Linked DNA regions of Homo sapiens. The protein of the gene in region 4 purifies or fractionates together with the protein of the main gene of each other region. This does not show direct contact. Each region holds a gene or a part of one and is shown on either strand. Other genes may lie near its edges. The genes, in order: APOO, NDUFAF2, LETM1, GSX1, SAR1B, DCUN1D5 and LYPLA1.

Region 1 (3,987 bases), on a different chromosome or scaffold from region 4:
TCAAGGAGAAATGGCTATGTTAGGATGCTTTCAGCTGGGAAAACCCAACTGCTTAAATAGTAAGGAAAATTCTCTCACAAAGTCCAGAGGAAGAATGGATTCCAGGCTCTGATTCAGTTGGTCAACAGTGTCAGGCCAGGCACGGTGGCTCACGCCTGTAATCCCAGCACTTCGGGAGGCCGAGGCGGGCGGATCACGAGGTCAGGAGATCGAGACCATCCTGGCTAACATGGTGAAACCCTGTCTCTACTAAAAATACAAAAAATTAGCCGGGTGTGTTGGCGGGTGCCTGTAGTCTCAGCTACTCGGGAGGCTGAGGCAGGAGAATGGCAAGAACCCGGGAGGCGGAGGTTGCAGTGAGCTGAGATCGCACCACTGAACTCCAGCCTGGGAGACAGCGAGACTCCGTCCCAAAAAAAAAAAAAAAAAAAAAACCAGTGTCATCAAGGACCCATCTCTTCTTGGGTTTCCACAGTCAGGTTGGTTTCCTTTAGGGTTGCAAGATGACTACTAGTAACATACACACTTTCTCATTCTCTAGAGCAAGAGGAGGAGGAGAGAGAAAAAACTCCCACACTTGGTCCTTCAGTCTGATTGGACCAACTTAGGTCAGTTGTCTGACCCTGTAACAGTTGTCAGAGGAATGCCATGATCTGATTGGCTTAGACTAAACAGGATCAACCCAGGGTGGCGTCACTTAATCACAGGGGAGAGGAATGCATTCATGAACACAATGGAGTTCTTTTAGGAAGGAAGAGGGAGAATAGAGACTGGATATGCAACCAACAATGTCCATGACGGAGATATAAGCTAGATGAGATATGAGTTAGTTACATATCATGAGTCGTGTTCACTGATTTGGGCACTTTGGAAAGCTTTCATGATCCTTATACTTTAGGTTTACTGATGGAAGTGAAGGGTAGATTAACCTGGGTTGGTGACTGAGGGCCAAGTAAGTGGACACTATGATGGTTGATAAGCTTGACTATCAAGGGAAGGAGAGAGAATTTGGTAACTAGAAGGATATGTTCAGTCAAGATTCTAGAGAGAATACCTCAGCTGTGCAAGGGAGAGATATTCCCACCCGAGAGATGGAAGGAAAAGAAAGGTGCGAGAGATTGTAGACCAGTGGTTCTCCATAGAATGGTACGACTCAACAGAATGGTATGTTTTGGAAACTTGTGGGGTTGTTCTTTTTTTCTTTTTTCGTTTTTAACTTTGCAAAAATTATAACTGAAAATGGGGTTGTTCTTTATGTCTTTAGTTGTGTTGAACATTTACATACTGAAATATAATTCACATAAATCTTTCCTTTTTATTCACCTTTATGCTACCATCAGAGTATACTGATTTACTTTTTGGACTTATGCATGTAACTTAGTGATGAATTTTATTTCAGGATACCAGAAGAGTGTCAGAAAATATTTGTCATAAAATGGTGATGTTAGGTCTAGTAGTTGAGAACCAGTGCTTGTCAAACTTTAATGGGCATGTGACTCTTGTTAAAATGGATTCCAATTCAGTAGGTCTGGGATGCGGCCTCAAATGCTCCATTTTTTTTTTTTTTTCTAGATGGAGTCTCGCTCTATCACGCAGGCTTGAGTACAGTGGCGCAGTTTCTGCTCACTGCAACCTCCGCCTCCCGGGCTCAAGCAATTCCTCTGCCTCAGCCTCCTGAGTAGCTGGGATTGACAGGTGCGCGCCACCATGCCCAGCTAATTTTTTGTATCTTTAGTAGAGACGGGGCTTCACCATGCTGGCCAGGCTGGTCTCAAACTCCTGACCTTGTGATCCACCCGCCTCAGCCTCCCAAAGTGCTGGGATTACAGACGTGAGCCGCCGCACCCGGCCAGATTCTCCATTTTTTAACTAGTTCTATAGTTTTCGTTGGTCCCCTTTGACTAGCAAGAATTGAAGCCAATCGGTAGATGAATGGTTCTTGTGTTTTCGAGATGGATGGTCTTATGAACATGGTGGGATTTGGGAGAGGCACTGACCAAGGAACAAAAAGATAGGCCAGACCCTTTGAGGGCTCTGCTGAGAGCACTCCTGTATGTTTGTGCAGAGTGGGGATGGAGTAAACGGTAGGATTGATCGGGGTTTGGGAGTTAACAGCTTGGGTTAACTAGAACTGGAGGGCAAAGGAGTTAATAGTATAGGTGTTGGTAGTAAAAGTACAATGGTAGTAAAAGTGCAGTGTGTCTGACTAGTTATGTGCATATTAAGTACACATTGTACTTAAAATATATACTGCGATGTTTTGATATAGTTATTCATCTTCAGGTCACTAGGGGGCATTGGTGGATTAAAAAACACATTTGAAAAGCTGCCCAGTATTTGCATTCCATTGTAGGAAGCAGCTTTTCCTTGTGCTGCTGCAGGAAGTTTGAATATTGGATACATATACCCAGATTCACGTTATTAGATTTCCTTCATTACACAGATTTTATCCTAGTCCAACTATGGGCTGGGCATCATGCTGGACCCTGGTGGGTACAAGTGAAAAGACCCAGTTCTTATCTAGGAGAGAGGTCCCAAATCTGGCCACAAATCAGAATTATTCAAGGAGACAGTTTCCAAGCCCCTGCGCATGGTTCTGACTGACTTTTTAGTTGGCGTCCAGGAACTGCTAGTTTTGAAAAAGCCCCCCAAGGTGATTATGAAACTTTCATTTCAGAAGCTCACAATGCACTTACCAGCACAGACATTAAAGGTCCGTTAACGATGCAGTGGGTCTCAACCTTGACTGCATGTTAGAGCCACCTGGGGAGCTTTTAAAAGTCCCGATGCCCAGTCTAGAACCTATACCAATGACATCAAGAATCTCTAGGGGTAGGATTAGGCATCTAGTTTTTGGAGCAAGCAGCCAGCCTTGAGATCTACTGACTTAGAGGGAAGAGCAACAGCAGGGGGCATCAGAAGGCTTTATAGAGAAGAACATGCCTATGCTGATCTTTGGAGCTAGGCAGACAAGGTTGAAAGGGCCTTCCAAACAGAGAAGAAAAGCACATGCAAGGACACAGAAGTGTGAGAGTGTTCAGAACAGTGTTAAGACCTTGGGCTTCACTGTGTTCCTTGTGAGAGATACTAAAGTTTTCTGTAGCTGCTTCCTCATTTGTAAAACAAGGATGAGATGCTTACCAACCTCAAATTATTGTGTGGATTAAATTCATTCCTACGCAAAGCTTAGAACAGTGCTTGGCCCAAAGTAAGGGCTGAAGAAATGTGAGCTGTTACTTTTAGTTGGCATCTTGTAAGATGGCATCTTGTAACTACCTGTGTTACGGTGGTGCACGGTCTTGGGGCTCTCCAAAAGTATTTTTTATTTCAAAACTTGGTAGTCAGTTGGATGTGGTAGATGAGGGAGAAGGATAAATTAAGGTTTCTGCCCAGGCTTTTGACTTTTGACTGTGGGATCTATTCATTGAGGTGGGAACTATTCATTGAGGTGGGAAAGTGGAAGAAGGTTGAATTTGGTTTGAGGGGGAGGTGATGGTTTGGTTTTGAACAGGTTGGGCTTGCTGAAATATCTGGGCATTGGAAGGGGGAAATCAGTTGATGTAGAACCCCAGGGTATGGACTTTTCCTGCCACAGACGTGGGCTGGAAATTGGGAAATCATCAGCTGCTAACTGAAGCCTCCAGGGCAAGAAGGTGGCCTAGTGAAAACTGGTCTGTGTCACTTCCTTCCTCAAGGGCAAATAACATGACCTGTACTCAGAGCTCACCACACCAAGGAGCCTGAGTGAACATGTCCATGACTATGAGGTGTTATTACCTCACACATTCTTTGTGGCTTAGTGTAATACTTACATTGCCTGTCTTCCTGAAATTAATTTTCTTACCATGTTACTAGTATGTTACTAGAACTGCGCGGAGAATTACAATGCTAAATGGAAAAGGAAAATCATCTGTAAATTGGAAGAGTAATGTAACTTTTATACTTGAGCATTATTTTAAAAGCCACATATTTGGAAAGATAATGAAG
Region 2 (3,987 bases), on a different chromosome or scaffold from region 4:
CATGAATATTTTATTTTTACATATTCTCACTAATTTGTATATTTTCTTACATAATTGTAATTGCATTTTGAGAGTTTTATTGAAGTATAATTGACAAAAAAAATTGCCCATGCTTAAAATGTATAATTTGGTAAGTTTTGACATATGTATATATCTGTGAAACCATCAACACAGTCAAGAAAATTAACATATTCAATATCCACAACAATTTGTTGTGCTCCTTTCTAGTCTTGCCTTATGCTTCTGCTTCCATGGATAGGCACTCATCTGATTTCTGACACTATACATTAGTTTGTATTTTTTATAATTTTTATTTAGTTATTTTTATTTGTTTATTTTGAGATGGAGTCTCGCCCTGTCGCCCAGGCTGGAGTGCAGTGGCGCTATCTCGGCTTACTGCAACCTCTGCCTCCCAGGTTCAAGTGATTCTCCTGCGTCAGCCTCCCAAGTAACTGAGATGTGTGCCACCCTGCCCAGTTAACTTTTTGTATCTTTAGTAGAGACGGGGTTTCACCATGTTGGTTAGGCTGGTCTTGAACTCCTGGCTTTGTGATCTGCCTGCCTCGGCCTCCCAAAGTGCTGGGATTACAGATGTGAGACAGTGCGCCTGGCTAGAATTTTATTTAAGTGGAAGCATACAGCACATATTCTGCTTTTTTTTTTTTTTGTTTTTTAGGTTCTTCACTCAGCATAATTATTTTGAGATTCATCCATGTTTTTGTGTTTATCAGTAGTTTATTTCTTTTTAATGCTGAGTAATATTCCATTGTATGTATATACCATAATTTGTTTATCCATTCACCTGTTCATAGATATTTGGGTTGTTTCTAGTTAGGGGTTATTACAAATAAATTATGAACATTCATGTGTAAGTCTTTGTATGGACTTATGTTTTTATTTCTCTTGATGTAATATTTAGAAATGGAATGGCTGAGTCAACTTGTTAGGTGTATGTTTAACTTCTTAAGAAACTGCCTAAGTGGTGGTACCGTTTTACCTTCCCACCAGGAGTGTATGAGATTTCCAGTTGTCCTATATCCTTATCAACACTTGGTATGGTCAGTCTTTTTAATTTTAGCTCTTCTAGTAGGTGTGTTGTGGTATCTCATTTTTTTTCTTTAGTTTTCTGTTTGCTATTAGTTGGTTTTTTTAGATTCTATTTTTAAAATACAGTAAAATTAACTTTTAAAATTGGTGTATAGTTCTATAAATTTGAACACATGTGATTCATGTAACCAACACCAAAATCAGGATACAGAACAGTTCCGTCACCCTGAATAACTCCCTCATGCTACCTTTTTGTAGTTACAATCTCTCCTCATCCCTAACCTCAGCAACCACTGATTTGTTCTCTGCCATTATACTTTTTTCCATTTGAGACTGTCCCACATGTATACTTATACCATATGTAACCTTTTGAACCTGGCTTCTTCTATTCAGCATAATGCCTTTGAGATTCATTACGTATATCAGTAGTTTGCTCCTTTTTACTGCTGATTAGTATTCCATGTTAATGGATGTACCAGTTTGTTCATTTACTCATTAAAGGGCATTTGAGTTTAGTTACTTGCAGTTTTTGGTGATTATGAATACAGCTGCAAGAAACATTCACATATGGGTTTCGTGTGAACATAAGTTTTCATTTTCCATGAGTACATACCTAAGAGTGTGAGTGCTTGGCCATAGCAGCTCCAGCTTACTCTGTAAAACGGAAATAACAGTACCTACTTAGCCTCACAAAGTATTTTTGCTACTCAAGAGAGACAAATTGGATAACGTAGCATTTAAGAGAATGGGATTTAATGTCGAAATCAGTTTGACTTAATTCACAGAGACCTTTTACTTGGTCATTTTTAAAAATTTATCACTGATTTGTAGTTTTCAGCATAGAGATCATGATATGTTTTGTTAAATTTATTATAAAGTATATTATATTGTATTGTTATTATAAATGATGCTTTAAAAAACGTAATTTCTAATTCTTTGTTACTATTATATTGAAGTACAATAGATTTTTCCATGTTGAGCATGTATCTTGCAACCTGTTTTACTCACCTACTAGTTCTTGAATGAAGCCTTTTGCAGATCCTTTGGACATTCTCTGTAGGTAATTATATCAACTGTGGATAGAGACAGTTTTGTTTTTATCCTTTCTAACTTATTTGCATTCTATTTCCTTCTCTTGCCTGGCTGCACTAGATGAGCCTCCAGTATAATGTTGAATAAGAGTGGTGAGCATAGGTATCTTTTTCTTGTTCCATATCTTAGAAGAAAAACATTTAATCTTTCATTTTTTTTTTCCCCAAAGGTGGAATTTCGCTCTCGTTGCCCAGGCTGGAGTGCAATAGCGTGATCTTGGCTCATTGCAACCTCCACCTCCTGGTTTCAAGCGATTTTTCTGCCTCAGCCTCCTGAGTATCTGGGATTACAGGCATGTGCCACTATGCCTGGCTAATTTTTTATTTTTAGGAGAGATGGGGTTCGCCATGTTGGACAGGCTGGTCTCGAACTCCTGACCTCAGATGATCTGCCCACCTTGGCCTCCTAAAGTGCTGGGATTACAGGCATGAGCCACCACGCCTGGCCACTACTCTTTCATTGTTAAGTGTGGTGTTAGCTATAATTTTTTAGATACCTTTTATTAAATTAACAAAGTTCCCTGTCTGTACCTCGTTTGCTGAGCGCTTTCTCTTATGAATCGATGTTGAATTTTGTCAATTTTGTCACATGCTTGCTTGCTGGGTTTTTTTTTTTTTTTTGGTTCTGTTGGAATGATCATGTGGTGAATTTATACTGATTGACTTTTAAAAATTAATAGACTTTATTTTTTAGAGCAATTTTAGGTTTACAGAAAAATTGAATGGAAACTACTCAGATATTCCTGCTCCCCCAATGCAGTTTCTCCCATTGTTAATATCTTGCATTAATGTGTCCTCACTTCCTCCCTTCCTGCTACCAAACCCCTAGCAACCACTGATCTTTTTACTGTCTCTGTAGTTTTGCCTTTTCCAGAATGTCATGTAGTTGCTGTCATATAGTATGTGATCTTTTCAGACTGGCTTCTTTCACTTAGTAATATGCACTTAAGTTTCCTCCATGTTTTTTTGTGGCATAATAGCTCCTTTCTTTTTATTTATTTATTTATTTTTGAGACAGAGTCTCACTCTGTCGCCCAGGCTGGAGTGCAGTAGTGCGATATTGGCTCGGTGCAACCTCTGCCTCTCAGGTTCAAGTGATTCTCCTGCCTCAGCCTCTCGAGTAGCTGGGATTACAGGTGCCCACCACCATGCCCAGCTAATTTTTGTAATTTTAGTAAGAGACAGGGTTTCGCCATATTGGCCAGGATGGTTTTGAACTCCTTACCTCAGATGATCTGCCTGCCTCAGCGTCCCAAAGTGCTGGGATTACAGGAGTAAACCAGATGCCTGGCCATCTACTTTCTTTTTATTGCTAAATAATATTCTGTTGTATGGTTAGAACCACTGTTTATTCGTTTGCATATTGAAGGACATCTTGGTTGCTTCCAAGTTTTGGCGATTATGAATAAAGCTGCTATAAATATTCCTGTGCAGTTTTTTGAGTGGACATAAGCTTTTAACTCATTTGGCATTGATTGATTGTTGAATGTCTTGAATATTGCATTTGTCAGGTAAACTCCACTTGGTCATGATGCATTATCCTTTTTATATATTATTGGATTGATGTGCTTTCATTTTATTGAAGAATTTTGTTTTCTGTTCTTCAGGATCTTAATTTCTTCCTTTTAATGTGTTTTCTAGGTTTGTTTTTAGGTTAATGCTGGCCTTATAAAGTGAGTTAAATTTTGTTTCCTTCTTTTGAATTTTCTGGAAGCGTTTGTGAAGAATTTGTATTACTTATTTCTTACATGTTGGATATAAATTGCCTGTGAAGCCATCTGGTCCTGGAGTTTTCCTTGTTGGAAGGCTGGAATTAAAAATTCAAAGATAATAAATTTTTAACCTACAA
Region 3 (3,987 bases), on a different chromosome or scaffold from region 4:
TTTCTTTCTTTCTTTCTTTTTTTCTTTTTTTGAGACGAAGTCTAGCTCTGTCGCCCAGGCTGGAGTGCAGTGGCGTGATCTCGACTCACTGCAACTTCCGCCTCCTGGGTTCAAATGATTCTTCTGCCTCAGCCTCCTGAGTAGCTGGGACTACAGGCATGTGCCACCATGCCTGGCTAATTTTTTGTATTTTTAGTAGAGACAGGGTTTCACCATGTTGACCAGGCTGGTCTCGAACTCCTGACCTCATGATCCACCCGCCTCAGCCTCCCAAAGTGCTGGGATTACAAACATGAGCCACTGTGCCCGGCCCCTAATACGATTTTTTAAAAACTGTTTTCATAGCTCTGTTGGGAATGATAACTGATTTTTCAATTGGCAAAAATAATTGGCCATTTCTAGATTTATGACAGCCCTCATGCCATGTGGGTTCTCCACTGGATGTGAGGTGCTTATCACCAGCTCAGCCTGTTCCTTCCCTCCCCTCCCCTCGCCTTCCCCATTCTTCCTCATGGTGTTTACTCGTGGGAAAAAAACAACTTGGAATTTAAAAAGACACTTAAGGCTGGGCACTGGTGGCTCAGGCCTGTAATCCCAGCACTTTGGGAGGTCAAGGCAGGAGGATCACTTGAGCTCAGGAGTTTGAGACCGGCCTGGGCAACATGGTGAAACACCATTTCTGCAAAAAATACAAAAATTAGCCAGGCATGATGTTGTGTGCCTGTACTCCCAGCTACTCCAGAGACTGAGGCAGGAGGATTGCTTGGGAGTGGGAGGCTGGGAGTTGGAGGCTGCAGTGAGCTGAGATCATGCCACTTTACTCCAGTCTGGGTGACAGAGCAAGACCCTATCTCAAAAAACAAAGACACTTAATTTCCTTGATTAATTAGTTCACTTAATTTTTCTTTAACAAATGTGAAGGAAATTGAGATTCAGAATAGATTCTATGTCTTTTGCTTGCAAGGCAGTGTACAAAAATAAGAAATTTGTATGATAGAAATACAATTTTATAACTCTCTGGTTTGAATTAATGGGTTTAATTACCTTTACAAGTTAATTTATTACCTTTTTTTGTTGTTGTTTGAGATAGGGTCTCGCTCTGTCACTCAGGCTGAAGTGCAGTGATGTGATCTTGGCTCACTGCAGCCTCCACCTCCTGGGCTCAAGCCATCCTCCTGTCTCAGACTCCTGGGTAGCTGGCACTACAGGTGTGCACCACCACGCCTGGCTAATTTTTTGTTTGAATTTTGGTAGAGATAAAGTCTTGCTATGTTGCCTGGTCTGGTTTCGAACTCCTGTCCTCAAGTGATCCTCCTGCCTTGGCCTCCCAAAGTTCTGGGATTACAGGCATGAGTCACTGTGCCCAACCAGATTCTTTTTTTTTTTTTTTTTTTTTTTGGAGACAGAGTCTCGCTCTGTTGCCCAGGCTGGAGTGCGTTGGCATGGTCTTGGCTCACTGCAGCCTCTGCCTCCTGGGTTCAAGCGATTCTCCTGCCTCAGCCTCCCAAGTAACTGGATTACAGGTGCCTGCCATCATGCCCAGCTAATTTTTGTATTTTTAGTAGAGGCGGGGTTTCACCACATTGGCCAGGCTGGTCTCGAACTCCTAACCTCAGGTGATCCGCCCGCCTTGGCCTTGCAAAGTACTGGGATTACAGGCGTGAGCCACTACACCTGACCCCCTTTTTCTTTTAAGACAAACTTTTTACAACCAAAATAATTTTATTAGGACTTGCAGGAGATCAAGAAGGAACTTTCAAAGACTGGTGAAGAAAAGTACGTGGAAGAATCTAAAGCCAGCAAGAGATTGACAAAAAGGGTGCAGCAAATGATCGGGCAGATCGATGGCTTGATCTCGCAGCTGGAGATGGACCAGCAGGCTGGCAAGCTGGCCCCGGCCAACGGCATGCCCACGGGGTGAGTGGGGTGGTGGGCGCGGGAGAGGGATCGGAGACTCACATAGGGAGGCTGGTCCCTTTGCTGGATCCGAGCTGGGCCCTTCTGGCTCCAAAGGGCACATTGTAGCCTCTGCCTGGCTGCCTCTCCACCTTTGACCAGCAGTCCCAGCCAGGAACCCTCTGGCATGTCAGTCTCTGCCTCTCCGAGAGCAGTTCGTCCCTTCCTGGCCCCTCTTCCTCTTCCCACAGCCCCCTCTCCTCCCGCTCCAACCTCCACCTCTGTTGGCTTCTGTTTCCTCTAATTACCAGGCTCTCTCTTGCCTCTCCCTCTTCCTGACCCCACCCACGCTCAGTAATGACACCAGCTCGGGCAGTCGGCCTTCTCTGTGCCCGACATGTCCCAGATTCCTGCGCAGCAGTGGCTGAGGGAGCTGCCGTTTTGTGAGTCCCTTCTGGGCGAATGAAACAGCTGTTGGGTGACTGCTGGTGCCCTGCAGGTTCCAAATCTCCACCTCCACACCCACAGTGTTGTAGGTGGGCTGCACGTGGCACCCTGCTCATGCTCTCGTCCCTGCTCTTGGAGGCCCTCATCTGCCCAGGGCACCACAGCCCCCATGATCGTGAACGTATTGCCAAGTGGCCACAGGCCTGAGGACAACAGCCCAGCAGCCATGGCCCCAGAGGGGCAGCCACTGAGGGGCAGACATGCCCGTGGAAACCCTGGACCTGGTGGTGTTTCTGTGTTTGTGTCCACGCTGGCCCTGGGAGCTCTTGGCATTGTATGCAGGATGGGATCATACCTTGGGGGTCCGTGCTGGAGGTTGCCTGGCTCACGCGGAGCCGCCTGTGTCAGTGCTGACCACTTGCAGCCACAGGTGTGGGCAGTGAGGCCCTGTGTGGCAGGACGCCTGCCCGTGGCCACATGCAGGCTGTGCTTCCACAGGGAGAACGTCATCAGTGTCGCTGAGCTCATCAACGCCATGAAGCAAGTCAAGCACATTCCCGAAAGCAAGCTCACCAGCCTGGCCGCAGCACTGGATGAAAACAAGGATGGCAAGGTCAACATCGACGACCTCGTCAAGGTGGGCCTCGCTGGGGACCACGCAGGCCATCCGCCACCTGCTCTGGAGTGGGGTGGGGCAGGGGGACTGTTCATTGCATGTCCGGCACCCTCCTGGGCAGCTACCCCCTCCTGTCAGGGGTTTGGGTCTGTCACTGCGACTGCTCCTTTAAGCCGCTGCTCTCATTTGAAACATCAGAAGTGAGAAATTATTGAAGTTACAACTCAAGTGTTGAGAGAGAAAACGCACCTAGTGGCTACGCATGTCCCTGGACCCCGCCCCCAGCTGGTGGCACTGGGGAGCCGGGGGGGTGCAGCAAACACCTCTCAGGGGCCCCCGACGCTGAGGGGCGACTGCACAGGGAGCCTGGGGGCACTTCACACCTGCCGGGGGCCCCCAAAGCTGAGAGGCAACTACACAGGGGAGCCGCGGGGCAGCTTGGGCACCGCCCCAAGGCTGAGAGGTGACTGCTGGGCTGAGCTCCCAAGTGCAGCCACTCAGGTTCCAGGGTAGCCCCGGAGACCCTGGCCCAGGATCCAGTCTCTGGAGGGAAGGCAGGGCTCTAGCCTGAGTGCGCACACCAATTTTCCCAATCACTGACATCTCTGAGGGGAAGCTGCCTCGTGGCTCCCGGTGCATGCATCAGGTTAGTGATTTTCCAGACGTCTAACAGAAGTGTTGGCTGGTTTCTTGCAGTTCAGTTTGGAAGCAAGGATCATGTATCTACTGCACAGCTGCCCTTCCCTTCCCTGCTAGTCTGGGTGGCAGAGTGGGGACAAGGTCCCTGCATGTCACCCCACTCTGCCCTGGGAAGCCATGGCCCAGGTTCCTGGCCAGAGCAGGAACTTGACCCTGGCAGCCCCATTGTGCTGTCTGCCACCTGTCAAGGCAGCCCCCTGGCTCCTTTGTCCTCCCACTCTGAGCCCCTTCCCCAGGGTCTGTGGCACCCCTTGGGGGAATTGGTGCTCTGAGGACCCTGGGGCCCGCAGGCAGTGATTGCGTGCATGCTGCTGCCACCCCAGCTGGGG
Region 4 (4,656 bases):
TCGCTCTTCGCTTCCTCTCAGCGACCCAGCCCAGCTCAAATTTCCCAGAGAGCAATTAGAACGGGAATTAGGCTGCATTGATGCGTTCCGGCTGGTTTGCAGGCACCACCCTAGAGTGGGGGAGCCTTGGCGCTGAGACTCTGTCTCAGAGGGCAGCCTTGCCCCCCACTCCATGCCAAGCAACCAAGAAAACATTGAACCCTTACTCCTGCTAGATGCCATGCCCTCCATGCAGGTTACTTCTCCCATTGTCCTATTCCCTTTTACAGAAGCAGTTATTATCTCGCAAAACAAATTATCTTTGCTTTTTAATCAGTTATAATCTGTTGCTGTTGTTATTGCAAAGATGTTGCCAAGGATAAAAGCCCATGCAGATGCTTCGGGTTTGGGCAATCTTATTCCTGCGCACTGCTTCCCCAGACCCCTAAGCTTCCCCCTCCATTTCTCACAATTCCATTCAGGGCTCAGAGCAGGTGACTGCAGCGATTTGGTTCCAATAAAATCGAAAGTAAACGTCTCCTGTGAAAAGTCCCGGGCTGTAAATTAGAAATGTTTATGCTGATTTCCCATTGTATGGAAAAAGCTCCTGGGCGAAACAGCTTTGAGCCCGAGAACGATTTAAAAAGCTGGAGCTGTGTACACAGCTCTGAGCGTTTGAAGTTGTTTAACCATTGTGTGACCAGAAAGAAGAGTGACGCGGCAGGAAGAAGAAGCCGGGTCTTGGGGAGAGCGGAGGCGGGTCAGGGTGGGCAAAGGCAGCCGATGCCAGGAATACAACCGCCCTTCGCGCCGTTCCAAACTAAGAGATGGCAGCGGTTTCCCAGCGCACTGCTGGAAGTGTGCTCCAGTAGACAGGGTGTGGGCAAGATGCGCGGGCAGACAGTCCGCACTCGCCACATGTGCTGGGGTGCGAGATCTAGATCTGCGCCATCTCGGCTTTCATTCCCCATTCCCTGTCTCTGTTCGTAACGCTCAGAGACTGTTTTTCCTCTTTTACATCCACGGCCCTGTCATTTGAAGGAAAGGGCTGGTTGGCCAGCATCTACCGAACAAAGACTGGGCGTCGTAGGCAGCACCAAAATTAAGACTATTTGAGAAACTTAGAGAAAACCGAGGGACAGCGATGGGTCTAGGGCTGGATAAGGAATAATGAGCCCTTCTCCTCCCTCCCCACAGACGCCTCCTTCACGCGGGAACCCGGTCCTCCTTCTTCCGACGCAGAGAGAGAAGCGATTCCACAGGTGGAAAATCTGAGACCGGCTGGAGGGAGGTTCGGGGGTGCACGGCACTGAGCTGACAGGGCTGACTGGAGACAGCATACTTTTGGGGTGTAAGGGCGATAATAGAAAGAAGGGGACCAGGACCAAGTGGACAGAGGATATGAGGGTGTGCGCCCATGGGGATCTGTAGAAGAGAGGCCGCGGGGGTGCAAAATCAGTAAGGTGAACGGGCTGATGGCCAATGCAAAGCCAAAGGGGAGTAAGAAATAAAGAGAAAGGAAAGAATATTAAATCGCGGGAGAATGAGAAAATAAACCCGCAAAAGGGAGAGGAGGGGGCGAGGGCGCCTGTTACGGCGTGGGTGGGGTTGACAAGAATAGAGTACATTATGCAGTTCATTTAGTTAACAAGTGAAATAATGAGGAAGCGTGCAGAGTGAATGCCAAGAGAAAAGGCACAAAAACCCTATTGAGAGGCCCCGGCCGCTCCTGGCGTAGTCCATCACATGGCAATAGTCCTATTTAAGCCGCGCCGCCGGCGCCTTTCAGCACCACTAGCGCTGGCCAGCACCCCGCGCTCTTTGGGCGGTGCCCACGGCAGCAGAGGCTACTGTTTCAGCCTAGGTCTCAGCCGCGCGTTCAGCCTCCTGGGCAGAGGCAGCTGCGGGATACCGCGGCCAGGGAAAGCGCGTGGAGAGCCGAAAGGTGCGGTGGGCGCAGAGGGCGGGCTGGCTGCGGGGCGACCGCGCGCCGGGGCCATGCCGCGCTCCTTCCTGGTGGACTCGCTAGTGCTGCGCGAGGCGGGCGAGAAGAAGGCGCCCGAGGGCAGCCCGCCGCCGCTCTTCCCCTACGCTGTGCCCCCGCCGCACGCGCTGCACGGTCTCTCGCCTGGCGCCTGCCACGCGCGCAAGGCTGGGCTGCTGTGCGTGTGCCCGCTCTGCGTCACCGCCTCGCAGCTGCATGGGCCCCCCGGGCCGCCCGCGCTGCCTCTACTCAAGGCTTCCTTCCCACCCTTCGGCTCGCAGTACTGCCACGCGCCCCTGGGCCGCCAGCACTCTGCTGTGTCGCCCGGGGTCGCTCACGGCCCGGCCGCCGCTGCTGCTGCCGCCGCGCTCTACCAGACCTCCTACCCGCTGCCTGACCCCAGGCAGTTCCACTGCATCTCTGTGGGTAAGCGGGGCCGCCGCGCAGAGGGACCGGGCAGAGGTGATCCGAAGCAGGATGGAGAGCCAGAGATGGAGGAAGAGGGACCCTGGGCTTTCTGGGGGCGGTGAGGGTCATGTCGGGGACTAAGGGGGGCGCTTGGGGTGGAGTGAGGATAGAGGGCCGGGACACAACGCCAGGAGGCGGATGAGGGCAGACGTCCAGGTCCTGGAGTGTGGGCCGGGGTAAGTGAGGGCTGGGATCCAAGGCTCTCCATGAAGGGGAAGGGGTTCCAGGGCTGCATGACTCCGGGAGAATCAGGATCTCGGAGCTGGACAAGGAGCGCTCACTGTAGCTCTGCTGTGGATTGTGTTGGGGCGAAGAGATGGGTAAGAGGTCAAAGTCGTAGGATTCTGGCGACCGCCTACCAAGGGATTGGGTCCACAGCACAGAGGTCTGATCGCTTCCTTCTCTGCTCTGCCACCTCCAGACAGCAGCTCTAACCAGCTGCCCAGCAGCAAGAGGATGCGCACGGCTTTCACCAGCACGCAGCTGCTAGAGCTGGAGCGCGAGTTCGCTTCTAATATGTACCTGTCCCGCCTACGTCGCATCGAGATCGCGACCTACCTGAATCTGTCCGAGAAGCAGGTGAAGATCTGGTTTCAGAACCGCCGAGTGAAGCACAAGAAGGAGGGCAAGGGCAGCAACCATCGTGGCGGCGGCGGCGGGGGTGCCGGTGGTGGCGGGAGCGCACCGCAAGGCTGCAAGTGCGCATCGCTCTCCTCAGCCAAGTGCTCCGAGGATGACGACGAATTGCCCATGTCTCCGTCCTCCTCAGGGAAGGACGACCGGGATCTTACGGTCACTCCCTAGGCGCGTGTCTCCCTAGGTCGCCCACCCCAAGACCTCCCTGCGCCTCGGAGACTAGTCCTGGGACTCAGCGCTGATTCCCAGGCACCCGCAGCCAAACCACTGCCTGGCATGGATTTGGCACTGCTTTGCAGAGGTCCCGGGCCTGGGCAGGGCTGAGAGCTTGGCAGAGACTGGACCATGGCGTCCCCGCCCCAGGGCTCGCTCGTGTCCAAAGCCAACTCCAAGCTGTGAACACTGTAAGCGCTCGAGTCCTCCTGGGCAGTGCAGCACCGCGGCCCCCGCCCGCAAGCCTGCTTGGCGCAGCGCCTTGCTGGCAGCCGGCGCCTCCTAGCCCGCCCTCTCTGGGCTGGCTTGGGCTTCCTCGCTTACTCTACTCTCCTCCGCTCTCGGTCAAGGTCGGCGGCCTTGGATGCTCGTTCGCTTCTCTTTTTAAAATGTCTTTTTGTCCCTCCCCACCTCTTTCCTGTGATCATTTATTCACTCGGCCCCCGCCCGCCAACACACACATTTATGAACCCCCACTTTTTTTTTCCTTCTCCTTTTCCCTTCCCCTCCTCAGGGAGCCTCCTCCTTCAGTCAGTCCATTTGTCCCTTGATCTGGCCTTGCTGTCCTCAGTCCCCACGGCTCCTCTCACAGATGATAAATTTCGCCCGTAGTATCCATATTGGGGAAACAGATTTGCTCTGTTTCCAACACGCTCTTCCTTCCTCTAAACATAGGACCCCGCTCTGCGCCGCTGGCGACCCCACTCTTCCCCCTCCAGACTCTGGCCCGCCCCAGCCTAGCTGTGTAATTGTACGGCCTCTGCAATGCCAGAAGATATTTATTTATTTATTTATGTACAAAATTTTAAATAAACTTTTTTTTTTCTTAGAAATGCCCGTGGCTCTGAGCCCAGAGGCCTTCGCTCTGGAGTAGACAGGCGCCAACCCGGATTGGGCCTCCCTTCTGGGAAGGGTTGGGGATCCAGTTGCAGGGTCCGAGCCGGCTCCTCGCCTTACAGCTCAGCCAGTGCCTCTCGGAACCCTCAGCTCCGCTGAGAGCCCGCCTTGCATGCCAGCCAGGTGCGCGCTAACGATTGTCCCGCTCCGGCGTGGCGCACAAGCGTCGCGGAGCTCAGAGAGCTAAGCCGGAAGGGAAGGAGAGCGCTCTCCTTGGACTGCACCATGGGTCCCAACCCCTGCAGCGCCTCCTTCTCACCTGGGATCCAGCCCCACCTCCATCCCTCACCATTTCGCTGTCCTGGCCAACAGCCGGGAGGGCAGAAACCACTCCCTCCATAAGCACAAGAAATCCGTCCTTCACTGCGCTTGGATTGATAACGATTCGTTAGGGACAAATTTCCATTCTGCGGGATGGTGCAGACTTCTCTCAGAGGGCCCTCCTCTCTTTGTTTTAAGGCAAATTCCCTTAGCCGAGT
Region 5 (3,987 bases), on a different chromosome or scaffold from region 4:
TCTGAGGTCGGGAGTTTGAGACCAGCCTGGCCAACATGTTGAAACCCCGTCTCTACTAAAAATACAAAACATTAGCTGGGTGTGGTAGCACATGCCTGTAATCTGAGCTACTTGGGAGGCTGAGGCAGGAGAATTGCTTGAACTCAGAAGGCAGAGGTTGCAGTGAGCCGAGATCGTGCCATTGCTCTCCAGCGTGGGCAACAGAGCAAGACTCCATCTCAAAAAAAAAAAAACTTTCAATTTTTTTGGTATTTTTTGTTTCTTTAGAGACAGGGTCTCACTCTGTTGCCCAGGTTAGGAGTGCAGTGGTGCAATCATAGCTCAGTGAAGCCTTGAACACCTAGGGTCAAGTGATCCTCCTGCCTCAGCCTCCCAAGTACCTAGGACTACAGGTGTATGCCACCATGCCAGACTAATTTTTTGTTTTTGTTTTTGTAGAGATGGAGTCTCAGTATGTTGCCCAGGCTGGTCTTAAACTCCTGGGCTCAAGTGATTCTCCTGCCTCAGCCTCCCAAAGTGCTGGGATTACAGACATGAGCCACCACACCCACCCTTGTTTTAAAACTTCCTGTGTGTCAATATATGCCTTGTTTTCTTTAGATTAATTCTGTGGTGTACATTAGATATTGTTGAGGTTATTAAGACTAGAAAAATAACTGGTTAACAAATTGAGTTACCAGCCATGTATAAAATTGTAATGTATCTACTGAATTAGTGCTTAAAATAGTACATGGTGCAATGGCTCCTATCTTTAATCCCAACACTTTGGGAGGCAGAGGCAGGAGGATCACTTGCACCTGGGAGTTTAAATGGTGCGCTATGATCATACCACGGCACTCCAACCTACATGACAGAGCAAGACCCTGTCTCTACACAAATAAAATAAAGTAATATGGCTTTAAAATCTGAAAGAAGCCTGGGCGCGGTGGCTCACACCTGTAATCCCAGCACTTTGGGAGGCCGAGGAAGGCGGATCACAAGGTCAGGAGATCAAGACCATCCTGGCTAACACGGAGAAACCCCGTCTCTACCGAAAATACAAAAAATTAGCCGGGCGTGGTGGTGGGTGCCTGTAGTCCCAGCTACTCGGGAGGCTGAGGCAGGAGAATGGCGTGAACCCGGGAGGTGGAGCTTACAGTGAGCGGAGGTCGTGCCACTGCACTCCAGCCTGGGCGACAGAGTGAGACTCCACCTCAAAAAAAAAAAAATCTGAAAGAAAAAATTCAGGTTATGTAAACAAGGCGATGGTGGACTATTTACCAATCATGTCACAATCCCTCAGACAAAAACTTTTTAATTCCTCAAGCTAGAGAAGGGAGTACTAGCTGATAAAAAGGTATGAGTACTAATTCAAGATCTAAATATTCTCCCTGGGAGCGAGGTCACCTATAATTTATTATTTTAGGAACAGGTCAAATCACCTGATCATAATTTATCTACCAGAAAATGCCCCCCAAACAAAAAACTTGGCCAGGTGCAGTGGCTCACGCCTGTAATCCCAATACTTTCGGAGGCTGAGAGAGGCTGATCACTTGAGCTCAGGAGTTCAAGACCACCCTGGGAAACATATCGAAACCTGGTCTCTGAAAAAATATAAAAATTAACTGGGCATGGTGGCACATGCCTGTGGTCCCAGCTACTTGGGAGACGGGAGGATGGCTTAAGCCCAGGAGACAGAGGTTGCAGTGAACTGTGATCATACCACTGCATTGCAGCCTGGGCAACAGAGAAAGACCCTGTCTGAAACAAAACACTTTTGGTTAGTGCATATGACTCAGCATCATTTGATCAAGTATCACATTGTATGTAGGAATATACTTACTGGGATGTAATGTTGGGACATGTTGTCCAAGTCTGTCATCTTTTAGCATGTGTAGCAATGTTGTTTTTCCTGCATTATCCAATCCAAGAAATACCAGTTTACCAGTTTTCTTATATAATCCTGCAAAGCAAGAGCTATGATTGGTCAAAGTGATATCTGATACTAATTATCCAAATGAATTTAAATTTGGCCCAATTAAGCTTGAAGTTCTAAACCTATTTTCAGTTTTAAAAAAGCTATTTTAAATCTATTCATGGCCGGGCACGGTGGCTCACACCTGTAGTCCCAGCACTTTGGGAGGCCGAGGTGGGCGGATCACCTGAGGTAAGGAGTTTGACACCAGCCTGGCCAACACGGTGAAACCCCGTCTCTACTGAAAATACAAAAATTAGCCAGGTGTGGTGGCGCATGCCTGTAATCCCAGCTACTTGGGAAGCTGAGGCAGGAGAATCACTGGAACCCAGGAAGCAGAAGTTGCGGTGGTGAGCTGAGATCATGCCATTGTACTCCAGCCTGGGCGACAAAGTGAGACTCTGTCTCAAAAAATAAATAAATAAATAAATAAATAAATAAATAAATAAATCTATTCATGATTTGGGACTTCAGATAATTATAAAACCAAACTTCAACCCAGTCAATAGAATATGTGTTTTGCCTTAACATATCTACAATGCCAAAATGCTGATTAATTTTAGAAGTATCAATCAGGTATTGATTGATAGATAAATTGATAAATAGAAAAAAGGCAGCATTGACCAATTTATAATAGACTGGAATTGAACTGCTAAATTTCATATTGAACTTAATTAATTGATTTATTTAGAGACAGTGTCTTACTCTGTTGCCCAGGCTGGAGTGCTGTGGCATGATTACAGCTTGCTGCAGCCTCAACTTCCTGGGCTCAAGTGATCCTCCCACCTCAGCCTCCTGAGTAGCTGAGACTACTGGTGTGCACCACCACGCCTGACTAATTTTTGTATTTTTTGGTAGAGATGGGGTTTCACCATGTTGGCCAGGCTGGCCTCAAGTGATCTGCCCACCTTGCCCTCCCAAGGTGCTGGGATTATCAGCGTGAGCCACACGCCCAGCCAAACTTTATTTTTTACATGTTTAATGGTCTAACCTCCACAAAATTACATGTGAGCCACCACACCTGACTGAAATAAACAAACTTTTAAAGACATTAGGCAATTATAGTTTCAGGCCATCCGTTTTTGAATAGATTCATACTAAAATAACACTTACTCCTTTGTCCATGCTTAAGTCTAAGAAGTAAATTGTTTGATGTCCTAATCTTTTAGTTTTGGGGGCAGAACTATATATATATTTTATCATTAAGGAATCTACTTCTATGACTGTCACTACTATGAGTGTCACGAAAAAGTAATTTGCCCAAGATTACATAATTTAAAAGTAATTGAACATATTTGTTCAATCGAGTAATTGAACATATTTGTATAATTACAAAGCCCATATTCTTTTTTTTTTTTTTTTTTGAGACGGAGTCTCGCTCTGTCACCCAGGATGGAGTGCAATGGCATGATCTCGGCTCACTACAACCTCCGCCTCCTGGGTTCAAGCGATTCTCCTGCCTCAGCCTCCCAAGTAGCTGGGACTACAGGCGCGTGCCACCATGCCTGTCTAATTTTTTGTATTTTTAGTAGAGACGGGGTTTCACCGTGTTAGCCAGGATGGTCTTGATCTCCTGACCTCATGATCTGCCTGCCTCGGCCTCCAAAAGTGCTGGGATTACAGGCGTGAGCCACCGCGCCCGGCCTTAACTATTCTTAACTATTGCTTCATATATAAAGAGGCTCAACACAAATAAGCACTATTATATAAATAAAATTAAAGGAGATAACTATAGAGAACAAAGGACCAATATTACCTAGAAACTGTAGCAAGGAGGCCGGGCACAGTGGCTCACGCCTGTAATCCTAGCACTTTGGGAGTCCAAGGCAGGTGGAACATTTGAGGTCAGGAGTTCGAGACCAGATTGGCCAACACGGTGAAACCCCATCTCTACTAAAAATACAAAAAATTAGCCAGGCATGATAGTATATGCCTGTAATCCCAGATACTCGGGAGGCTGAGGCAGGAGAATTGCTTGAACCAGGAGGCGAAGGTTGCAGTGAGCTGAGATCGCACCACTGCGCTCCAACCTG
Region 6 (3,987 bases), on a different chromosome or scaffold from region 4:
TTACTATGGTATTATGTGTGATAAGGCTGTTGGTTTTGTTCTTTCACAAGACCTCATTCTTGAGTGATATTTAAATTAATGATTCAGTAATATACTGGCCTATGGTAATTGAAAACATGGAAAGTGAAAGGGCAGTTTTAAAGTCTCATAGAGTCAAAAAATAAGGTTGGAATTGCATAGTCCTAATATAGTACCTAGCTGGTGGAGTAGAGTGAACTCATAGTATGAACAAAATCATTTCTATAGCTTCTTCAATTGAGTGGAAACCTAGTTGTCCAAAAGAGTTAATTAAATTTAGCTCCAGAGGTTTTACCCAGAGAGTAGTTTTATTAGAAAGATTGGAAGCAATGGTATTGGAAGGATTAACATTTTGCAGTCCGGGGAAAGCACATTAGTTACAGACCTCGCTTTAGACTTAGATCTGTTACTATTTACATCACTTTGGCAAAGTCAGTTAACATTTACAGACCTTATCTAAGTTATAAGGTATTATATCTCTATGTAATCTCATTTGACTTGCTTCTAACCAAATTTTAATTAGTAATCACCAAGTAATCCTCCAGTTTCTAGGGGGGCTATACTGATATTTCTTTTTTATTTTTTATATTTTTTGAGACAGAGTCTCGCTCTGTCACCTACGCTGGAGTGCAGTGGCGCAATCTCGGCTCACTGCAACCTCTGCCACCTAGGTTAAGTGATTCTCCTGCCTCAGCCTCCTGCGTAGCTGGGATTACAGGCACCTGCCACCACGTCTGGCTAATTTTTGTAGTTTTAGTAGAGACAGGGTTTCACCATCTTGGCCAGGCTGGTCTTGAAATCCTGACCTCGTAATCCATCTGCCTCGGCCTCCCAAAGTGCTGAGATTACAGGCGTGAGCCACTGCTCCTAGCTTATGCTGATGTTTCTAGACATCCTCTAAAGCTTTCTCTTTGAATCACTAATGGCAACTTTGAGAGCAAGTATGTTTTCTTGATGCTTTAGAAAAATTTACAATATATTTACATCGTGGCTTTTAAAAAAACCGTTTGTCTTTTCCCTTAATTTTTTATTTTTTATTTTTTTTTGAGACAGGGCCTTGCTCTCTCCCAGGCTGGAGTACAATGGCGTGATCATGGCTCATTGCAGCCTCAAACTCCTGGGCTCAAGCAATGCTCCCACCTCAGTCTCCTGAGTAGCTGGGACCACAGACTGGCACCACCACACAAGGCTATTTTTTTTTTCCCTAGAGATGGGGTCTCCCTGTGTTGTGCAGGTTTGTCTGGAACTCTTGGGCTCAAGTGATAATCCCACCTCGGCCTCCCAAAGTGCCAAGATTACAGGCATGAGCCACCGCGCCTGGGCCTCTTAAATTTTCAAATCTGATTTTTGTTTTCTTTCAATCATATATAAGAATACATACTCATTTATGCATTTTAACACCTTTATTGTATATGTATGCCTTTTAAGTTATAAAATTAACACATTCTCATTTAAACAATTCTCCAAATATGTAAAGGAAGAGAAAGTGCCCTATAATTAATCACCCCCTTCACCTTTTAACACGAGTGCATTGTTAGTACTTATTTAAACCTAATAACACTTAACATGTTACACAAAAAAATTAAAAAGGGTTTTGGCTTCAGACCAGTATTAATGTCATCTTAGCAGCTTGGATCTCAGGCAGCAAGAATGTATTGACTTTATGTTGTGCTAGTAACCTAAATATGGTGCTGTCAAATTTACCTGAGCAGCCTTGGTCTAGTCTATGGTTTATAAAGCTGGAGGATTTTCATCCTTGAAAAAGGAAAATAGAGGCTTCTCTTGACTCTTAAGAATAATATCTCAAGATTATATTTTCAAAATCCCATAGTGGTAAACACATTTCTCATATTATTACAAAATTTGTTTTATTCTTATCCAGTCACAAAAGAGACCTAGTGATGATGTAATTACTATATTTTGGGAATCTGATAACATTTTGAAAAAATGATAATTGATGTATTGATTTATTAATGTTGCTAAGGGTGTAAAATAAGGAACAAGTTAAATGCCAGTAATTAATTTTTGGATGAATGATAGACACTAACTAATTGAAAGATTAAACTTCTGTTTCTACATTAAGGTGACATCAATGCTTGCTGTCTGTTTTAGAACCAAGATGATAAGGAAAATAGCTCTTTCTGGAAATGGAATGTAGTAATTTCCATAAGTCATTATTTTCAAAATACCTTTGTCTTTTTCAATAATTAAATTATATTTGAGTGTATTTCAAAAGGGTAATAAATGGCCTGTTTTATAGGTAAATATATTCCCCTTCTGATTACTGTATTGAACTTTGTGTTGGTTCTGATATTCCAGTAGATTAAGAAGCTCCAGCTGCCTTATGTTTTTTCATATTCATGCATTGTCAAAAATTTTATTCAGAGTAGGCTCTCAGTGAATTTTTTTTTTAATGGATTGGTTTGAGTTTTTGTACTAACTTGTGATTGATACTAATGGAGTATTTCTTTGCTGCTTTTTAAATTTTCTTAATTTCATATTGTAATCTGGTGTTCAAAGAATACTTCACAAATTTTAAATTTTAAATCCTGTAGCAAATATTTATACTTATCAAAGCTATGCCAAAATTCAAATTTAATTATTTGCAAAATATTATGGTGTGTTCATGGGTACCTTTAGCATGACGATTTATGTTTTATGTTGATATTATAACAAAATATGTTAATTATTTTTGTCTTTGAAGGTCCTGATGAAGTTGTAGGGCCAGAAGGAATGGAAAAATTTTGTGAAGACATTGGTGTTGAACCTGAAAATGTATGTTTTATTTCTAAGTAGAATGGCATATAAGTGGGGTATAGCATATTCGTAAATTACTAAAAATCGAGACACTTTAATCTTGTATGAAGATTTTATTTCTTCATGTTTAATATTGTAAATTTGCATTTAAGGTATTTTTAATCAGTTTAAGTTGGGCAAATGTATTCTTTCTTGATACAAATGTTATATGTAATAGAATAAGAGATTCTACCTTCAGAAACTGTTAGAACTTTTTACTTTTAAGAAATTGGCACATCTCAATTTCTTTGTATATAGTTAATAATTCCAGAGGTTGTACTCTTTAATAGTTGAAGGATGGAAGTAGTTGTGTAAAAATGCTCTCCATGATAAATATAGACATGATTATCTCTATGCTGACTTTTCCCCTATCCTTTATGTTCTGTTCTTTCCAGATTATTATGTTAGTTTTAGCGTGGAAATTGGAGGCTGAAAGCATGGGATTTTTTACCAAGGAAGAATGGTTAAAGGGAATGACTTCATTACAGTAAGAAATTTTTTTAAAAAACAAATTTGATGGCCTATTTGAAGATCTTAATTGATATTTTGTGCTTCATAATTTTCAGGAGTAAGGTTTCACCTTAAATCAAATCTGTTTGATCTATAACAATTAGTTTGGGGATTGAAAAAATTATATTGTGGTCTTGGGCAAATATATAGGTACCCCATGTTTTATATTCTCTAAGAAAGAACCTTAGTACAGTCCTATTAAAATTCCTTGATTCTCTTGGTGAGTGACTTAAAAGTCTATGATCAAAGACCTATTTATTTACAGGTTGTTTGAGTATAAGGATTTTCCTCTCTCAATACAGAATTCTACTATCGAAGGAGTATGTTCGTTGGGCAGCCCTAAGCTCTAGGGCCTCCTCTCCCTTCTTCACTTTAATATTTGACTTTAAAAATTTGAAGATAGAGTTACATAACCCTTTTATGATTTCTTTATTGCCAAGTGAATTTCATAAAGGACAAAAGTAGAAATGTTGTAACTGCTCCCGTGCAATCTTTACCCATTTTATAGTCCTACACTTTCAGTTTAGGATCCTGTCTTTGAACATTTTCATAAGTTATAGAATTGCATCTTATAAAAATAATTTGATTTTGGCTTTCCTGAATGAAGTGTGCTTAATTTCAGAATCAATTAGTGATTTTGTGTTAATTGTATAGTATCATGTT
Region 7 (3,987 bases), on a different chromosome or scaffold from region 4:
AAAAAACTTCAGTCTAGGCAGATTCCACAGACTGAAGCTAAAAGTAAAAATGGTGAAGACTATTAGGATCAAAAATACCAAGAACATCCATTACATCTTGACCAAAAGTTAAGTTTATATTAAAAAAGTATCCTTCTTTTTAACCTGTTGTGATAAAAGAAAAAACAAAGGTCTCCAGTTCTGAAATTATTTGGTGGGATAATGCTAAGGAAAGGCTGACTCTAGATTGGTTCCATGAGTGCATGATGAAACTTCGAACCTGTCAGCCTGACAAGTGGCAATTTAATACTTAAGATATTGTAGTCTCCCCTTACCTGCAGTTTTGCTTCCCATGGTTTCAGTTACCCGTGGTTAACTGTGGTTTGAAAATACTAAATGAAAAATTCCAGAAATACTTTATAAGTTTAAAATTGTACACCATTCTTTTTTATTTATTTTATTATTATTTTTTGAGATGGAGTCTCACTCTGTCACCCAGGCTGGAGTGCAGTGGCACGATCTCGGCTCCCTTCAACCTCTGCCACTCGGGTTCAAGTGATTCTTGTGCCTCGGCCTCCGGCGTAGCTGAGATTACAGGCGCGTGCTACCACGTCCAGCTAATTTTTTTGTATTTTTAGTAGAGATGGGGTTTTGCCATGTTGGCCAGGGTGGTCTTGAACTCCTGACCTCTAGTGATCCACCCACCTCGGCCTCCCGCAGTGCTGGGATTACAGGCATGAGCCACCATGCCTGGCCTGAATTGTACACCATTCTGAGTATTGTGATGAAATCTCATTCCGTCTCACCCAGGACACGAATCATTCCTTTACCTAGCGTATCCATGCTATATCCATTCACCATCTGTTAGTCACTTGGTAGCCATCTGGGTTATCAGGTCAACTGTTTTGGTATTGTTTTGCTTTTTTTTTTGAGACAGAGTCTTGCTCTGTCACCCAGGCTGGAATGCAGTGACACAATCATGGCTCACTGCAACCTCCACTCTCCAGGTTCAAGCAACTCTCCTGCCTCAGCCTCCTGAGTAGCTGGGACTACAGGCGTGCACCACCACACCCGGCTAATTTTTGTATTTTTAGTAGAGACGGGGTTTCATCATGTTGGCCAGGCCAGTCTGGAACTCTTGACCTCAAGCGATCTGCCCGCCTTGGCCTCCCAAAGTGCTGGGAATACAGGCATGAGCCACCTCGCCCAGCCTGTAGTGCTTTTATCCAAATAAGCCTTACATTGCTTAATGATGGCCCCAAAGTGCAAGAGAAGTGATGTTGTCATATTGTTATAATTGTTTTATTATTGTTAATCTCTTCCTATGTCTAATTTACACAATAAACTTTATCACAAGCATTATGTATAGGAAAAAACATAGTATATATAGGGTTTGGTGTTATCCATGGATTCAGGCATCCACTAGGGGTTTTAGAGCATCCCCCACTGTTTATTTCTGGAATTTTCCATGTAATATTTTCGAACCACAGTTGACTGTGGGCAGCTGAAACCATGGAAAACAAAACTGTGGGTGAGAAGGACTAGGGTATTTTAAACATTATATAATCACAGAAAAGTTATCCCATTAAATTTAACATTTAGTATTATCTAATATATTATGCATTCAACCTTTGCCAGATTGTTCCATTAATATCCTTTATAGCTATCTCCTCCCTAGTCATACATTATATTTAGTTATCACGTCTCTTTAGTCTCTTTTGTCTCTTTTAATCTGGAACAATTCCCTAGATTTTCTTTTGTCTTTCACGACATTGACACTTCTGCAGAGAACAGGCTAGTCCTTTAATTTGGGTTTGTGTATTTACTCATGATTAGATTCAGTTTATGCATTTCTGGTATAAATACCATGTAAACAATATGTCCTATTCATTGCGCGCATCAGTAGACTAATGATGCTGAGTCCTTTTATTGTTGTAACTTCGATCTTTTGATTAAGGTGGTATCTTCCAGGTCTCGACTGCAGTTACTTTCCTTTTGTAATTAAAAAGCAAGTTGCGGGGGGATACTTTGTGACTATGCAAGTTGTTCATCAAGCTTTCACCCAATATTTTTATCATCCATTGATAATTGCTTGAGTCAATCATTTCTACAGTGTGATTTTCCAATTCTGTCATTCCTTTTTTTTTGTCATTCCATTTTGTTTATTAATCTGCTACTCCCCATTTAGTTAGTATGGACTCAGATTTATTTTCTATTTATTTATTTATTTGTTTATTTTTTGAGACAGAATCTCGCTCTGTCACCCAGCCAGGCTGGAGTGCAGTGGTGCAATCTCGGCTCACTGAACCTCCACCTCCCAGGTTCAAGCAGTTCTGCTGCCTCAGCCTCCCAAGTAGCTGGGACTATAGGTGCGTGCCGCCACACCCGGCTAATTTTTTTTTTTTTTTTTGAGACCTTGTCTCGCCCTGTCGTCCAGGCTGGAGTGTAGTGGCGTGATCTTGGCTCACTGCAACCTCTGCCTCCTGAGTTCAAGTGAGTCTCCTGCCTCAGCCTCATGAGTAGCTGGGATTACAGGCACGTGCCACCACGCCTGGCTAATTTTTTTTGTATTTTTAGTAGAGACGGGGGGGTTTCACCATGTTGGTCAGGCTGATCTCAAACTCCTGACCTCGTAATCTGCCCTCCTCAGCCTCCCAAAGTGCTGGGATTACAGGCGTGAGCCATAGTGTCCAGTCAGATTTTTGTAGTTTTAGTAGAGACGGGGTTTTGCCATGTTGGCCAAGCTGGTCTCGAACTCCTGACCTCAAGTGATTTGCCCACTTCGGCCTCCCAGTCCCTCCCTGGAATTACAGGCATGAACCACTGTGTCATGCCTGGACTCAGATTTATTTAATAGGTTATGTTCTATTCTGTTATGTTTTAAACTTTTTAACTTTTCATTTTAAATAACTTGAAATTTACATAAAAGTTGCAGAAATAACATTTATAGCTCCTTATACCTTTCACCCAAATTACCCAATTGTTAATATTTCTGAACTATTAAAGAATAAGTTGCAGGCGTGTTGCCTCATTACAGCTTAATTCTTCAGTGTACATTTTTAAGTACCAGGACACTCCAGTATAACCATCATTAAGAAGTTAACACTGATGGTATACTACGGTCTAATCCACCAGCTCCATTCACATTTCATTGATTTGAGCCAATAATGTCCTTTATCAGTCTAGGATCACATATTGCCTCTACTTATCATTTCTCTTTAGTTTTCTTTATTCTGAAACAGTCCTTGTCTTTCATGACCTTGACACTTTGTCAAGAATACAGGCCGGGTATGGTAATACCAGTGCTTTGGGAAGCTGAGCATGAGAATCGCTTGAGCCCAGCTGTTTGAGACCAGCCTGGGCAACAGCCAGACCCTGTGTCTACCAAAAAAAAAAAAAAAAAGTGTAAGCCAGTTACTTTGTAGAATGTCCCTCAGTTTGGGTTTATCTGATGTTTTGTGATTTATACCTTTTTGACAGTAACACTATAGGGGTATTGCTGTGTCCATAACAGTGCATCATATTAGGCAGACCTCATGATGATTTTGTTGTTACTGATGTGTTTTATCACTTGGTTAAGATGGTGTCTGCCAGGTTTCTCCACATTAAAATAATAAATATAACATATGAAATATTTAAAATATTGAATATGTAATTAAAATATTAAAAAATATTTTGTGGGGAGATACCTTGATATTATAACATATTCCTGATCCCCACCATATGTTCACCCATGGATTTAGCACCCATTAATGATTATTGCCAGAATCTATTGTTGTGGTAGTTGCCGAATATCTTATGATATTTAAATATTTAAAGTTAAAATATGGTCTTTTAATTAAATTTCCTTTGTTCTGGCCGGGTGCAGTGGCTCATGCCTGTAATTCCAGCACTTTGGGAGGCTGAGGCAGGAGGATCATCTGAGGTCAGTAGTTCAGTACCAGCCTGGCCAACATGACGAAACCTCGTCTCTACTAAAAATTAAAAAACTAGCTGGACAGGATGGTG

What was found.
Region 1: the proteins of GSX1 (region 4) and APOO purify together in Homo sapiens (affinity purification with mass spectrometry; one large-scale study listed by BioGRID and IntAct). This does not show direct contact.
Region 2: the proteins of GSX1 (region 4) and NDUFAF2 purify together in Homo sapiens (affinity purification with mass spectrometry; one large-scale study listed by BioGRID and IntAct). This does not show direct contact.
Region 3: the proteins of GSX1 (region 4) and LETM1 purify together in Homo sapiens (affinity purification with mass spectrometry; one large-scale study listed by BioGRID and IntAct). This does not show direct contact.
Region 5: the proteins of GSX1 (region 4) and SAR1B purify together in Homo sapiens (affinity purification with mass spectrometry; one large-scale study listed by BioGRID and IntAct). This does not show direct contact.
Region 6: the proteins of GSX1 (region 4) and DCUN1D5 purify together in Homo sapiens (affinity purification with mass spectrometry; one large-scale study listed by BioGRID and IntAct). This does not show direct contact.
Region 7: the proteins of GSX1 (region 4) and LYPLA1 purify together in Homo sapiens (affinity purification with mass spectrometry; one large-scale study listed by BioGRID and IntAct). This does not show direct contact.

Annotation. Positions count from the first base shown.
Region 1 is NC_000023.11:23,900,952-23,904,938, reverse strand, and holds part of APOO (MICOS complex subunit MIC26 precursor), read left to right. Parts: intron 1-596; exon of another isoform or gene 597-1,143; coding exon of another isoform or gene 1,144-1,164; intron 1,165-3,987. UniProt on the Homo sapiens protein: Component of the MICOS complex, a large protein complex of the mitochondrial inner membrane that plays crucial roles in the maintenance of crista junctions, inner membrane architecture, and formation of contact sites to the outer membrane.
Region 2 is NC_000005.10:60,947,899-60,951,885, forward strand, and holds part of NDUFAF2 (NADH dehydrogenase [ubiquinone] 1 alpha subcomplex assembly factor 2), read left to right. Parts: intron 1-3,987. UniProt on the Homo sapiens protein: Acts as a molecular chaperone for mitochondrial complex I assembly. Complex I functions in the transfer of electrons from NADH to the respiratory chain. The immediate electron acceptor for the enzyme is believed to be ubiquinone.
Region 3 is NC_000004.12:1,814,657-1,818,643, reverse strand, and holds part of LETM1 (mitochondrial proton/calcium exchanger protein precursor), read left to right. Parts: intron 1-1,729; coding exon 1,730-1,917; intron 1,918-2,841; coding exon 2,842-2,980; intron 2,981-3,987. UniProt on the Homo sapiens protein: Plays an important role in maintenance of mitochondrial morphology and in mediating either calcium or potassium/proton antiport. Mediates proton-dependent calcium efflux from mitochondrion.
Region 4 is NC_000013.11:27,790,714-27,795,369, forward strand, and holds GSX1 (GS homeobox 1), read left to right. Parts: upstream 1-1,769; 5' UTR 1,770-1,977; coding exon 1,978-2,389; intron 2,390-2,852; coding exon 2,853-3,235; 3' UTR 3,236-4,055; downstream 4,056-4,656. UniProt on the Homo sapiens protein: Probable transcription factor that binds to the DNA sequence 5'-GC[TA][AC]ATTA[GA]-3'. Activates the transcription of the GHRH gene. Plays an important role in pituitary development.
Region 5 is NC_000005.10:134,619,111-134,623,097, forward strand, and holds part of SAR1B (small COPII coat GTPase SAR1B), read right to left. Parts: intron 1,943-3,987; coding exon 1,823-1,942; intron 1-1,822. UniProt on the Homo sapiens protein: Small GTPase that cycles between an active GTP-bound and an inactive GDP-bound state and mainly functions in vesicle-mediated endoplasmic reticulum (ER) to Golgi transport.
Region 6 is NC_000011.10:103,082,062-103,086,048, reverse strand, and holds part of DCUN1D5 (DCN1-like protein 5), read left to right. Parts: intron 1-2,722; coding exon 2,723-2,793; intron 2,794-3,209; coding exon 3,210-3,301; intron 3,302-3,987. UniProt on the Homo sapiens protein: Contributes to the neddylation of all cullins by transferring NEDD8 from N-terminally acetylated NEDD8-conjugating E2s enzyme to different cullin C-terminal domain-RBX complexes which is necessary for the activation of cullin-RING E3 ubiquitin ligases (CRLs).
Region 7 is NC_000008.11:54,095,145-54,099,131, reverse strand, and holds part of LYPLA1 (acyl-protein thioesterase 1), read left to right. Parts: intron 1-3,987. UniProt on the Homo sapiens protein: Acts as an acyl-protein thioesterase. Hydrolyzes fatty acids from S-acylated cysteine residues in proteins such as trimeric G alpha proteins or HRAS.